Linked DNA regions of Homo sapiens. The protein of the gene in region 1 interacts with the protein of each later gene in a biochemical or structural test. Each region holds a gene or a part of one and is shown on either strand. Other genes may lie near its edges.

Region 1 (7,199 bases):
GAGGCAGGACCTTGCCCTCCTTCCTTGGGCCTCAGCCTCCTCTGCTGCACACGGATTTGGACCAACTGGAGTTCTCAGAGGTCCCTTCCAACCTTGACCTTCTAGGAAGTCTTTTGGGCACTCCACCCCCAGCTCAGGCAGAGGGAAGAGTACTTTTTGCCTGTACTGAAAAACCCTCATACGTGGGCACACAAACCACCTCCATCTTTTCACAAAAAGGAAGTTCCCCTTCTACCTTCCAGCCCCAACCCCTCCAAAAACATCTTGCTCTCTGGCCCTGGAAACTAGCTCCACCTTCAGACTTGCCAAAAACTACCAGATTCATCACAAAGAGCTGTGGCGCCTCCTGGATTCCCAACTCTGGCCTCCTACTCCCATCTCTGAGCTACTTGGCAGGAAGAGGAATCCTGTTCCTCGACTCACAGCAGTCGGGGGCCCCAGTACCCTGGCTTCCCTGCCAGCCAATCACAGCAGCCTGCTTGCTGCCCTCCTCCCTGGGAGATGGGGCCCAGAGACTCCTCTCAGGGTCAGCAGAAGACTTGGCCCGCCACAGAGCAAGGTGGAGGAAGGTGCCAGCTCACCCACCCTCTCCCCCAGCCTCCCTAGGAGACAATCTGCATGTCCTAAATAACCTCTTCCAGATCCAGCAGCTCCCCCGCCTCCTCCCCAGGCTCCTTCTGAGGCGGGACAGAACCGGTGACTTTCCTGCCCGGCCTGAGCCCAGCCCAAGTTTCCAGCAAGAGGCCCAGGGAGCCACTTCCCAAACCACAGGAGTGACAGCAGCTCCCCACAGGGTTATGAAAGACCTTGGTCAGAGAGGGCGGGCCAGGGGAGGGGGCACCATTATCACATCGGAAGCAGATGCAGCTCACCTCCCTGTCTGTCCCTCAGCTTGGGCCTTGGGCTAAGGGGGGAAGAGGGAGCTGTTTCCACCAGGCCCAAAGCAGCTGCTCCAGTTCCTCAGAATGAGGACGAGGAAGGATTAGGAAGAAGCTGTTTCTTCCGGGATATAAGAGGAAGCAAAGAAGGTGGGATGAAATACATCAGCCCTTCCTTAAAGCAATCAGGGCCTGGCTTTAATTGGCTCTGGGAGGCTTTTCTATCACAAAGTCCACATGAGGATAAAGACTCAACCAAGGCAAAACCCCCTCCCCCACATGAAGCACATTCCACTCCCCTACTCCAGTGGGGGTGTGCAGGCATGCCCTTCTGCTGCCAATAAATAACTCATGGTGGCTGCGTAAACCCAGAGGCAAAGTACTAGTGAGTGTAGACATGCAATTTGACTTGTTGCTATCTGGGGGAAAGACCAGGAAGGAGTGGCATCCCCTGGAGGTCAGGAGGAGGGGGTTTAATGCCTGCCTGCAGCTCAAGCCTGGGCGGGAGTGATACTAACCATCACACCACAATGCCCCATCGTTTGTTCCACCCCAATTCCTTTCCCAAAGGTCCTGATCCCCTTGCTTCCTCTCCAGGGGGCAGAAAGCCTCTGATATCTCAAGCTTTCCTTTTCCTGGAAAGTGGGGAGACAATACGTGTCGGGGGTGGGGGGAGTTACACACGCACCCGCAACTGGCGGGGAGAGACAGCGTGGTCGGTGTAGATGCACAGTTTTTCGATGGTCAGGGGCGTGGTCTCGCGCAGCTTGGAGGCCAGCAGCATGCAGACCGCACCCAGGAGCTGCAACTGCGCCTTTCGGGTGGGGACGCAAGACAGGTAGCGATCCAGGTAGTTCATGGCCAGGGGGAAGACTTCCTCCTCACAGCGCTGCTCCTCACATACCTGGGGGAGGGCGCACAGTCACTGCTGGGTCTGGAGCGTGGGGAACACAGCAGCGGGGGGGTGGGAGCGCTGAAGTGAGGTGGGATAGGGAGCAAAAACGGCAGAGAGGGTAAGCTACTTAGAGAGACAAGGACCAATAAAGGAGGAGGATGCGCCCTCCCCAAGGTGACGCCCCCCACTTCCTCTGCGCGGCCTCCTCCCCTCTCCCCTTGACGGGGGAGTGGTAAAGCCAAGGAGCCCTTGCTCACGGAGGATTCCAAACGGAGACTCCCCTCCCCCACAGCGAGGGGAAGTGGGACGCAAGGGTCACCCATGGTAGCCAGAGAGCTGGGACCTCACCCCCATCACCGCCACCACTGCACACACCCGAGGGGAAGGGAGGAGGCTCCTGCCGCTGCCTCCTGCACTTTTCATTTCCCTGTCGGCCGGAACAGGGCGCGCGCCACCCCCATCGCCTTCCCCGCCAGAACCCCGCGAAAGACACAGGAACCGGCTCCCGGGCGGGGGCGGCCGAGCCCAGGGTTTTCCAGGCGCGCTCTCCGGAGAAGGCCGGGAGGCGGAGGGAAGCGGGAGACGCTGTGAGAAGCCGAAGGGGAGAGAGTGTCCTTGGTCCCGTTTGCTCGGCCCGAAGAGAGGCACAGTTAGGGTGCCAAGTGACTGGCAGTCACTGTCGGGAGGAGCCGATTAGGGCTCGGGAAAGCAAGGGAGGCAGCTGGCGTGGGTGCCCTAGTGAAAGGCCAGGCCCCGGGAGTCTTAGCCTCGGAGCATCCTGCAGATTGCTGTGGGGACCGGGATGTCCCGACAGGGCGGCCCCGGTGTGTCCAGACCCGGGAGCGGTGGGGGAGGGGGACGCGTCCGGGCGGTACCTCCAGCATCCAGTAAGCCAGCATCTTCCGCATGTGCGGCTTGATCTCCCGCTGCACGCACTGGAAGTAGGAGGCGCGGGGTACGTAGCGCTCCTCCAGGCGGAGCAGGCTCTGCAGGACACGCTGGTCCCCCAGCAGCCGCGGGTCCGGCCCGGCCCGGGGCGCGTGCCGGGTGCCTTCGCAACACAGCAGCTCCATACTCGGGCAGCGAACAGGCAGGGCGGGAGTGCGGGCTCGCGAGTCCCAAGGCAGGCGACGGGCCGGAGAGCGCGGGGCGCGGGTCTGGCGCTGGCGCTGGCACTGCGCGGCGGATCCCCAGCCCGCCCGCCGCCCGCGCGCGCGCGCCGCTTCCCTGACAGGCGCCCCGCCCCTCGCGACGATGTAGCAACCGTGGAATGCTCGGACGTCGCAACGCTCCGAGGGGCGGGGCTGCGGCGCCCCGGACGGAAAGGGTTGGCTGAGCGCTCTCCCCTCCCTCCCGCGGCCCCATTGGGCCGCTGAGCGCAAGCCGGCCGGCTTCCGGGCACTCCAGGCCCTCTGGACCACCGGGTGCAGAGAACTTTCTAGGAGGTGGGCCTCCTACCCACCCACGGGCCCTCCCATTTTGCTTCTCGGACTCTAGTCACCCAGGAAACAATTTTTCTCCAAAGGTCATTCATTCACTTATTCATTCGTCAAACCCTACTTCACCGGCTGCTTGCTCTAAGGAATGCGATAAATAATGTCAGAGCTAGTTCTTAGTGAACGCTGCTCGAAAGCCTCACGATGTAATGACTCACTACATCTTCACGAAAACTCGGAAACCGAGGCAACTGTCATTCAGTTGGTCCGTGGCAGAGCTAGGATTGGGAAGCTGGCCTTCTTGCTGCAGATTCTGTGTTCTACACCATTGCTAGTTAAACTGTGATCCCAGACCTGTCCCGTGCGTGGTCATCGCCTGGGAGCTGGTTAGAAATGCAGACTCTCAGGCCCACCCCTAACCTGAATCAGAATCTGCATTTTAACTAGATTTCTGTGCACTTTAAAGTATGAGAGCTTTAGTCTAAGTCAGCATATAACAGAACGGAAAGGCCATGGAGTCATGGCCTCACCTTGTTAAGTTGCTTGCCTAGGTTTGGACAAGCCCCTAAAGTCGGCCTTAGTTTCTGTTTGGAGAAACTGTGGACGGAGAAACTAGATTCTCATTGAATCAGTTTCTTGCACAGACTCTGTGAGATCTACCGGTTGCATTTCTTCCACCTCCCAAACTTTTGGTTACTTTGTAGTTTTACCGGAAGCTAGATTCCACTTGACGAAGAGGCCGAAAAAGACCTCCAATAATGCTCCAAATGGGAGGAGGCCATGAGGATCCCTGCCCTACTGGGGTCCTCCTGACTTAGGAGACACTAAGGAAGTGTCTAACCATTTTCTGTTAATTATTCTTTTTTTTTTTTTTTTTTTTTTTTGAGACGAAGTCTCACTCTGTTGCTCAAGCTGGAGTGCAGTGGTGCGATCTGGGCTCACTGCAACCTCCACCTCCCGGGTTCAAGCAATTCCCGAGTAGCTGGGACTACAGGCACGCACCACCATGCCTGACTAATTTTTGTATTTTTCGTAGAGATGGGGTTTCACTATGTTGGCCAGGCTAGTCTTGAACCCCTGACCTCGTGATCCGCCGGTCTCGGCCTCCAAAAGTGCTGGGATTACAGGCGTGAGCCACCGTTCCCGGCCGAATTATTCTTTCTTATATTATAAATTGTATTGTAGTTTTCATATCATAAAATATTCTTTTACATTGTAGAAAACTTCAAAAATACAAATAAGCCACAAAAAAAGGAAATAATCATTTGCAATTTGCCATGAAATAACCCTTTAATATATCAATGTTTATTTTTCTAATCTTTGTTCTATGAATAAACACACATTTTAAATGGAATCATCACAAACTGTTTTGTAAGCTTTTTTCATTAAAAAAATACTGTTAACACTTTTCCATGCTATTAAATATTCTAGGACATAATTTGTAATAGGGACATAATATACCATTAGGTGAATGTACAAAATGTATTTTGGCAAACCTGTATTGGTGGAAATTTAAATTATTTCTAGTTCTTCTCTATTAGACATAATACTGTAAAATATTTTTGTGGTAATATCTTTGTGCACACTCATGATTATTTCTAGAAGTGAATTAATTTCTAGAAGTGGAATTTCCCAATCTAAGGTTATGAAACATTCTAAGGCTTTTGATACACTTCTAATTGCCAAATTTTCCTGCTGAATAGTTAAACCAATCTTTTCCACCATCATTACATATCTATTTTTCAAAACAACTCTGCCAACTAGAGAGTGAAAGTGGCTTATTAGTAATAATAAATCTATTTTGGCATATTACTAGACATTTACATTTCTTATGTACATTACCCATTCATGTCCTTAGCTTATTCATTTATAGGGATGTTTGTTTTCTCTTATTGACTTATAAGTTCTCATCACCTCTCAAAGATATTAACCCTTTTCATATTTTTTGTTTGGTTTTTTAACTTTGGTTATAAAAATTCTTGACATAAATTAATTTTTAAAATCAGTATTTTTAAAACTTCTCATTTATAGTAACATGGCACTATGTATAAAAATGTCCCATCAGCCCAGCACTTTGGGAGGCTGAGGCAGGAGGATCACTGGAAGCTAGGAGTTGAAGACCAGCCTGGACAACAAAGCAAGACTCCTATCTCTACAAAAAATAAAAAAAAAAAATAAGCTGGGTGCGGTGGCACAAGCCTGTAGTCCCAGCTACTAGGGAGACCGAAGCAGGAGGATCGCTTGAGCCCAGGAGTTCAAGGCTGCAGTGAACCATAACGGCACATGACCTTCCTTAACATTTTGTTATCATACATTTTGCAAAAACAAAATTTTAGTTCATTGTTTTTACTAATTTTTGGTTCACGGTGGATTTTTTTTTTTTTAACAAATAGAAGGGTTTTTTGTGTTTTTCTTTGTTTTTTGGTTTTCTTTGTTTTTTTGACACAAAGTTTTGCTCTTGTCACCAGGCTGGAGTGCAGCTTACTGCAACCTCTGCCTCCTGGTTTCAAGTGATTCTCCTGCCTCAGCTTCCTGAGTAGCTGGGATTACGGGTGCATACCACCATGCCCGGCTAATTTTTGTATTTTCAGTAGATACGGGATTTCACCATGTTGGCCAGGCTGGTCTCGAACTCCTGACCTCAAGTGATCTGCCTGCCTCAGCTTCCTAAAGTGCTGGGATTACAGGCACAAACCACCGCACCTGGCAAATTAGTTGCTGATTTATTAATTGAGGGAGGGCCACATAGACTGACTAGTCCTGAAAGCTGGATGTGAACCTGTAGTATGGGGACGGGAGCTCCTGGTGAGCAGGACTTTAGGAGAGATACTTCTGCCTCACCCCTGGATGGAATAGCCATGCCTAGAGCTAGATCATCCCTGACTTTCAGGGCCAAGGACTGGCCACTGGGGAGGCAGGTGAGCTCAATGCAGGACCAGCACAAGTTCACCAGTTACCTCCACCTCAAAGAAATAGAGGCTCCTCTTGTTTTTCTTGTTTTTGTTTTTGTTTTTCTAAAAGGAAAACTAAAGACAAAGCAATGACCAGGGCCAATAGTATGAGGAGTTTCTACCCAGGTACATCCAGTTAGAAAAAGTCAATAAAATGGCAAATTGGAGGAGGGGTGGGAATGGAATGTCACAGGCCAAATAAGAAACCCCAAGGAGGAAAGATACATTTTCTTTCTCTTCCTCTTCATCATCAAAATACCCCCATCTGGGCCAGGCACGGTGGCTCACGCCTGTAATCCCAGCACTTTGGGATGCCAAGACGGGTGGATCACCTGAAGTCAGGAGTTCGAGACCAGCCTGGCCAACATGGTAAAACCTTGTCTCTACTAAAAATACAAAAAATTAGCCAGGTGTGGTGGTGGATGCCTGTAATCCCAGCTACTCCGGAGGCTGAGCAGGAGAATCACTTGAACCCTGGAGCCAGAGGCTGCAGTGAGCCGAGATCGTGCCATTGCACTCTAGCCAGGGCAACAAGAGCGAAACTCTGTCTCCAAAAAAAAAAGTCCGCATCTGAGAAGTGAGAGGCTGAACAAGGTGATGGGTGAGGCCCATCACCCCACAGTCCACATGCCATGGCTTAGTTACCTTCAGACCCATTGAGATGCTGGGGAGAGCCAAGCGAGCCATGGGGCTGAGAACAGGGGTGCTAAACAGGGTTCTGGAGTCAGAGACTGCTTTCAGTTCAAACCTGGCTCCACAGCTTATGACTTTGAGAGAATTACTGGAACCTCTCTGCTTCCTCTTTTATCCAGTGGGGATAATATAATAGCCCTATAATGATGTTCTGAAAATTAAACAAGCAGAAAATGTCTTACCTGTGCCTGGCACAAAGCAAGCATTCAGAGATAGTAGTTTCTGAAATGATTATTATTATTCCCTTTCTCAAGGAGTACCCTTTCTGTTATGAACATGCATCCATAACCCCTCTAAGAAAAGCAAAAGTTTGAGCAGCAAGAGCCCTACTCCTAGAATTGCATCT
Region 2 (7,319 bases), on another chromosome or scaffold:
GAATTTCCAGCCGCACAGCATCTGGTGCCCTCCCCTCCACCCTCACAAGGAGCTGCCATCCTGTTTGGATTTTCTGTTTGTGGACCAGAAACAAACGTTTTTCCAAAGGATTAGCAAATAGGGTAATTTCCTGTGTAACGCTGCTCTGGGGCCTCTTCCTCATCCTGGCAGAAGGAGCCTGGAGCCCATGAGGCAGCCAGCACTGTGCCCTTGCTCAGTCGTGCTGTCCCCTCCCTCTCCCTCAGTCTCCTCTCCATGCCCAAGTCAGTTTCCAGCCGCTGGTCTTCATGGCATTCCCAGCACAGCCGGGCACCAAGAGGCAAAACCCAAGGCCTGGCTTGGCCGTGTTAACGATTGTACAGACATTTTTTAAAATAACTTTGTGTAATACTTTTCTGGAATAGTAAGTTCTTGTTGAACTGTCACAGGTGAGCTTCTAGGAACACACCAGGTGTGGTTACTTCCACTGGGTGTGTCCATGGTCGTGGTCTGTGCTTTTGTAAACGAACAGAACACTTGAACCACCTCCCGAATTGGGTCATCGGCTTCTTTACGTTGATACTTAAGAGATTTGCAGCTCTCTTTCAAGGAAACTTCCCCTACTGAAAGGCATAAAAAGGTTAAAAAAGAAAATCCGAGAGTCCCAATTCCCTGTATAACAGCATTAAAATAATCTGCCTGCCTGGAAAGATGAGAACACTGTTGCACAACCCAAAATGTGTCTTTAATTTGTGAAAAATTACCATGGTGAGTCAGACAGTCATTTTAAACAGCTGAACAGAGACTATCATCAGCAAATAGAGCTCAGCTTTGTAGCTGCCTTTAAAATCCTTGTCCCAAATCCGGTGAGCTCTGCTTGCTGCCGCCGCGCTCCTGGGTGATCACTCAGACGGGTCAGTGGGAATAACAGGCCAACAAGACAGCTTTTTACATGTGTCCAAAGGATGGCCTTTCGAAGGCCTGGAAGTATTTCACTGTTGGAAGAAGTAAACAAGAATGACATTCCAGATGGAAATAGAATTCTCTCTCTTGCCTTTGACCAACATGGTACTAAGGGGTTTCTTCTTTCCCAATGTATGTACGTGCCCTGCTGGGGGCCTTACTTTATAGAATGAGAGCATCCGAGCTTCCCTAATGAATCTGGCTAGTTCTGTGTCTGGCTGAGGATACAGGAGTGGGACATCCACTCTCGGATCCCTCAGAGCACAGAAACCTTCAGCTTTGCTGTCTCTGAAGTATTTCCTCCAGTTTCCCTGCGGGCCCCTATGTTTGAGTTTGATGGCTGCTGGATCCTCACTCAACGAAAACTCGGTTGGAAACTGTTCCGCCTGGCAGTCCTTTTTTGTTGTTTTCCATCTCATTTCCCTTCCATCTGAAAGTGGCATTCAGCTGACTTGCTCATTTAGACTGTTCACGGAGTCTGAATCTGCCAACGTGGTGTTGGAGGCTCCACCTTGAAAAGGGCCACAGTCAGGGCAACTTTCCCCATACAGGAAAACTTGAAAATTACATCAACAGTCTACGTCACAGCCAAATTATATTTCCTTTATACCAAACAAAACTATGGAGAACTAAAAGTACATCACACAAAACGTTTATAGTGTTTTGCATGTGACCTATTTCAGTATTTATATAACTAGATTAGTGCTTTCTAGCAAACGGTTCTGTTAATTAGCGAGTCACTGTTGATTCTGCTGTGGTGGTAAGTTGATACCGTGTAACTAATCCCGTGGATGCCTCCTCGTTATTTTTGTCCAAACGAAGCAGCCGTGGTAGTAGCTGTCTATGATTCTTGCTCAGCAAAGTAAAATAAATGTTAAATATGGACTGCTTTGTTTTCTTCCTTGTGGAACTCTGGTGTTCATGCTACTTTGTTCACCGGTGGGGCTGGCTGTTGCTAGCAAAGAGGCTCTTCACAGAAGTGGCTGAACCCAAAGTTCTGGTTGGGAAAGGCCTTTGTGGCAGCTCCTATCAAGCGCAAGTGCGAGGCCACCCCCTCCTCGTGGGCTCTGGGGTCGATTTTGTTAGGGTTTGACATGAGTGGCTGCATTTGGGTACTCACAGATTTCACAAAGGAAGGGTAAACTGGAGATTTTTGGCCGGGCACGGTGGCTCATGACTATAATTTCAGCACTGTGGGAGGCTGGTGGGCAGATACTTTAGGTCAGGAGTTCAAGACCAGCCTGGCCAACATGGCAAAATCCTGTCGCTACTAAAAATACAAAAGTTAGCCAGGTGTGGTGGCGCACGCCTATAATCCCAGCTACTCGGGAGGCTGAGGCAGGAGAATCACTTGTACCCAGGAGGCGGAGGCTGCAGTTACCCAAAATTGTGCCACTGCACTCCAGCCTGGGTGACACAGCGAGACTTTTTCTCAAAACAGAAAAAAACGTGCTGTGGCTCACGCCTGTAATCCCAACCCTTTGGGAGGCCAAGGCAGGCAGATCACAAGGTCATGAGATCAAGACCATCCTGGCTAATACAGTGAAACCCCATCTCAACTAAAAACACAAAAAAATTAGCCGGGCGTAGTGGTGGACGCCTGTAGTCCCAGCTACTCGGGAGGCTGAGGCTCGCAGGATAATGGCGTTGAACCCGGGAGGTGGGGCTTGCAGTGAGCCGAGATTGCGCCACTGCACTCCAGCCTGGGCGACAGAGCAAGACTCCGTCTCAAAAAAAAATAAAAATAAAAAAATAGGGAGATTTCCCCAGTTACCAAGAACTCAGGAAGCAACATTAAGAGCTTGGGGGAGGCCAGGCGCGGTGGCTCACGCCTGTAATCCCAGCACTTTGGGAGGCAGAGGCAGGCTGATCACGAGGTCAGGAGATTGAGACCATCCTGGCTAACACGGTAAAACCCCGTCTCTACCCAAAATAAAAAAAAAATTAGCCGGGCATGGTGGCAGGCGCCTGTAGTCACAGGTACTCAGGAGCCTAATGCGGGCGAATGGAGTGGAGGCGGGAGAATGGCGTGAACCCGGGTGGCGGAGCTTCCAGTGACCCGAGATCGCGCCACTGCACTCCAGCCTGGGCAACAGAGCGAGACTCCGTCTCAAAAAAATAAAAATAAAAAAAGAGCTTGGGTACACAAAGCAAGCAGCATTTCATTCCGGGATGAAAAAAATTCCGATACCCATCGCCCTTCTTGGGCCCTTGTCAGTTTCTTGCCACATCTTTCATTTTCCCATTTCAGGCCCAGTAAATGCGGATGTTTATCTTCCATTGTTTGTTTCCTGAGATTCAGATGTCTAAAGCATTTTTCTGTGACTTTTCAAGTCAAGAGGAAAACCTGACATATGGAAAGGGAATTAATTGCTCGTTTTATCCTCTTCTCCTGCAATGCTCTGAATCCATGGGTTTGGAGTGGGGCCCTGGGAGTTGGGGGAAGCACCATACCCAGTGAGTCTGCACTTTGAGGACCCACTGCCAGTGTCAGCTTCAAAATCACATTGTAAAAGGCCGGGCGCGGTGGCTCACGCCTGTAATCCCAGCACTTTAGGAGGACGAAGCGGGCGGATCACTTGAGGTCAGGAGTTCGAGACCAGCCTGGCCAATATGGCGAAACCTCGTCTCTACCAAAAATATAAAAATTAGCCGGGCGTGGTGGCGCGGGCCTGTGGTTCCAGCTACTCGGGAGGCTGAGGCAGGAAAATTCCTTGAACCCGGGAGGAGGCTGCAGTGAGCCAAGACCACGCCACTGCACTCCAACCTGGGCGGCAGAGCAAGGCTCCGACTCAAAAGTAAATACATGAATAAATAAAATAAAATCACATCGTAAGAGCTCTCCCTGCCCTGTTTCTGAGTAAGGTTCAGAGTTAAATTCCGAGATCGGCCTTTACAAGACACACAGACCTGAGGCGCCTCACGAGGTAACCAGCAGGTAAATGGAGCGCGCTCCACCCACCCGCCACTAGGGGTCCCAGCGGTCAAGGGGGTGGAATGCGGGCGTCCATCGCGAAGGCATTCTGCTCGCAAGCCTTGGCACAGGCGCGGGCTTCGCTACCGGAAAAGTCCCGGTAGGATTCCGGAAGCCGGCCACGCGTTCCGCGCAGGCGCAAACTGCTCCAAAAGTGGGCGTCGCTCCTCCGGAGTCCCGATTCCTGCGTCACAGCCCGCGCCGAAGTCGGAAGTGCGCTCACCGGGCTGTTTCTTCTGGCGTCCTGGACCTGAGCAAGCGCTGTTTTATGCGTTATCATCCCGCGCAGACACAGGAAGTGCCGCACAGAGCGAGCCCCTGTCGTTGTCTCGAGTTCTGGGCCGGAGGTCGGCTATTATATCATCATTACGCGCCAATACAGGAAGTGACGATACTTTTGGCGCGCGCCGGTTGCTGTTTCTTCTCTGGCTCCGGGACCGGCGGCGGCGGCGGCGGCAGCGGCGGCGGCGTAGGGGTGAGTTCCGACTGGGCGGACCAGGTGTGGGAGCGCGAGGAGAACTGCGCACCGAGGTCTTTCTTCCGAGCAGGCCTCGGAGCGGGGCGGACCCGGGCCCGGGGGCGAGCGACACCCTCGCTTCCGCGGACAGTCTCATCCCGCACGGAACTTTGGGTGGTGGAGGCGGCGGGTCCAAACGCTGTCTGGAGCCAACGTCTGCCAGGCTGAACCTCAAGTGTGCGGGACTGAACCCGAGGAAATAGCCCAGTGCCCGGGTCAGGTGGCCTTGTTCGCGAGCACATCTCGGAGCATCTCCCCGGTCTCAAGGTGCAGCTGTCCAGTGTGCTAGTGGCTTCACGTAGTCCAAGCGGTCTTTCTAGCAGATTCTGACAGTAAAAGCAGTGTTTGATGAGTGGCAGGTCCTGAGTTAAGAGCCTTTAAACGGATGATCTTTAATCCGCGATCGATACTATCACGTAGGTGTTGTTATTCTGGTTGTACGGAAGACTAAACTGAGGTGAATTACGTTACCCAAGACCATACAAGAATGACAGAAACGAGACTTGATTTCAAGCGGTCATTTTTCAGAACCCATCACTCTTTTTTGTCGCCCATGCTGCAGCGCAGTGGCTGTTCACAAGCGCACTTCAGCCTGGAACTCCTGGGCTCAATCGGTCTCCCATCTCAGCTTGCAGAGTATATGGGACTACAGGCGCTCGCCACCTTGCCTGGCTTACAACTTATCATTCTTGTTTTTTTTTCTTTTTTTTTTGAGACGGGGTCTTGCTGGAGTGCAGTGACGCGACCTCGGCTCACCGGAACCTCCGCCTTTCGGATTCAAGCGATTCTGCTGCCTCGGCCTCCCGAGTAGCTGGGATTACAGGCACCCGCCACCACGCCCAGCTAAGTTTTGTATTTTTAGTGGAGACAGGGTTTTCGCCGTGTTGGCCAGGCTGGTCTTGACCTCCTGACCTTGTGATCCACCCGCCTCAGCCTAGAGCTTACTTTTTTTTTTTTTTTTTTTTTTTTAACCAAGTCTTACTTTGTTATCTAGGCTGGAGTGCAGTGGCGCAGTCTTGGCTCATTGCAGCCTTGACCTCTCTGATTCAAGTGATCCTCCTGCCTCTAGCAGCCTCCTTCCTGTAGCTAGGAATACAGGCACGCGCCACCACACTGGGCTAACTTTTGTATTTTTTGTAGAGACGAGGTTTTGCCATGTTGCCCGGGCTGGTGTTGAACTCCGGAACTCCAGCGATCTGCTCGCCTCGGCCTCCCAAAGTGCTAGGGTTACCGTCTTGAGCCACTGCGCCGGGCACAACTTCTTATTCTTAATGAGGATTTATTCTGAATCCCTCAAAAGTGACTAGGTTCAAGTGTTCAGCACCATAGCTTGCTGTGTCCTGATGTAGGCTGAATTATTTTTCTTTTTGCAGTGTTTTAACTCAAATGGGTGATGAAAAGGACTCTTGGAAAGTGAAAACTTTAGATGAAATTCTTCAGGAAAAGAAACGAAGGAAGGAACAAGAGGAGAAAGCAGAGATAAAACGCTTAAAAAATGTAAGCCATATTTTTTAAGTAAGTGGTTTTCTTAAAGGAGATTTAATTTCTTTGCCCTCATTTTTCCATTAGAACAACGCTTCTTCGGTGAAGTTCTTTTGTACTTCCAAATGTCGCAGGTGAGCCCAAAATCTATTCTAAAAATTAACAAAAACATTCAAATATTCAGTTGACATTAAAGGCAGATTTAACACACTAAAGCTGTGTCTAGATTGAGCATACATGGAGAATAAAATACGTTGAATGTTAAGTCATTAGCAAAACTGGACTAATTTTTCTCGGTTCATTAGTATGTTCATAATACTATCTCTAAGTATTTTTAATATAGTGGGAACTTGCCTTGAAATTAATATAAATATTTTACATCTTTCTTGGTTTGCATGGTAATGTACTCAGGAAACCTTTTTAGTAATTTGGTAAGAGGCATTGGCAAAGTACCTCTTTTGCTAAGATCTTTAGCAGCATCATTTGGGATGTTAGTGAGTACAGGCATACCTTGTTGTATTGCACTTCACTTTATTATGCTTCACAGATATTGAAATTTTTCCAAATTAAAGGTTTGTAGCAACTCTGCATTGAGCATTTTTCCAATAGCATGTGCTCACTTTGTTAGCTTTTTTTTTGTTTTTGAGACGGAGTCTCGCACTGTCGCCCAGGGCCGGGTTCACGCCATTCTCCTGCCTCAGCCTCCCAAGTAGCTGGGACTACAGGGGCCCACCAACATGCCAAGCTAATTTTTTGTATTTTTTAGTAGAGATGGGGTCTCACGGTGTCAGCCAGGATGATCTTAATCTCCTGACCTCATGATCCACCCACCTCGGCCTCCCAAAGTGCTGGGATTACAACAGGCATGAGCCTCCGCGCCCGGCCTTTTTTGTTTGTTTTTGAGACAGTCTTGCTCCATTGCCCAGGCTGGAGTGCAGTGGCATGATCTCAGCTAACTGCCACCTCTGCCTCCTGTGTTCAAGCAGTTCTCCTGTCTCAGCCTCCTGAGTACCTGGGACTACAGGCACCTGCCAGCACGCTCGGCTAATTTTTATATTTTTAGTAGAGACGAGCTTTCACCTTGTTGGTCAGGCTGGTCTGGAACTCCTGACCTCAGGTGATTCACCTGCCTCACCCAGCCTCCCAAAGTGCTGGGATTACAGGCGTGAGCCACCATGCCTGACCTAAACCAAACTTTTATATGCGTTGGGAAACCAAAAAATCTGTGTGACTCACTTTATTGTGGTGTTTTGGAGCCAAACCCAAAATATCTCCAAGGGATGCCTGTACCATATGAGGTATCACAAAGTATTTGGTTTGCAAGATACGCCTTAAGATTCATTTTTGGCTCATATAAGCAACTAACATACTTGGCATAGAGTCTAATGTCCCTTGTCATATATG

What was found. The genes of interacting proteins can lie anywhere in the genome.
Region 2: the proteins of CCND3 (region 1) and CDK11B form a complex in vitro, tested with the Homo sapiens proteins (one study listed by BioGRID).

The regions. Positions count from the first base shown.
Region 1 is NC_000006.12:41,938,804-41,946,002, forward strand, and holds the start of CCND3 (G1/S-specific cyclin-D3), read right to left. Parts: upstream 3,006-7,199; 5' UTR 2,847-3,005; coding exon 2,649-2,846; exon of another isoform or gene 2,359-2,648; coding exon of another isoform or gene 2,149-2,358; intron 1,783-2,148; coding exon 1,567-1,782; intron 403-1,566; exon of another isoform or gene 1-402. UniProt on the Homo sapiens protein: Regulatory component of the cyclin D3-CDK4 (DC) complex that phosphorylates and inhibits members of the retinoblastoma (RB) protein family including RB1 and regulates the cell-cycle during G(1)/S transition.
Region 2 is NC_000001.11:1,655,986-1,663,304, reverse strand, and holds the start of CDK11B (cyclin-dependent kinase 11B), read left to right. Parts: upstream 1-4,300; 5' UTR 4,301-4,391; exon of another isoform or gene 4,392-4,849; intron 4,850-5,806; 5' UTR 5,807-5,819; coding exon 5,820-5,930; intron 5,931-6,002; exon of another isoform or gene 6,003-6,040; coding exon of another isoform or gene 6,041-6,049; intron 6,050-7,319. UniProt on the Homo sapiens protein: Plays multiple roles in cell cycle progression, cytokinesis and apoptosis. Involved in pre-mRNA splicing in a kinase activity-dependent manner. Isoform 7 may act as a negative regulator of normal cell cycle progression.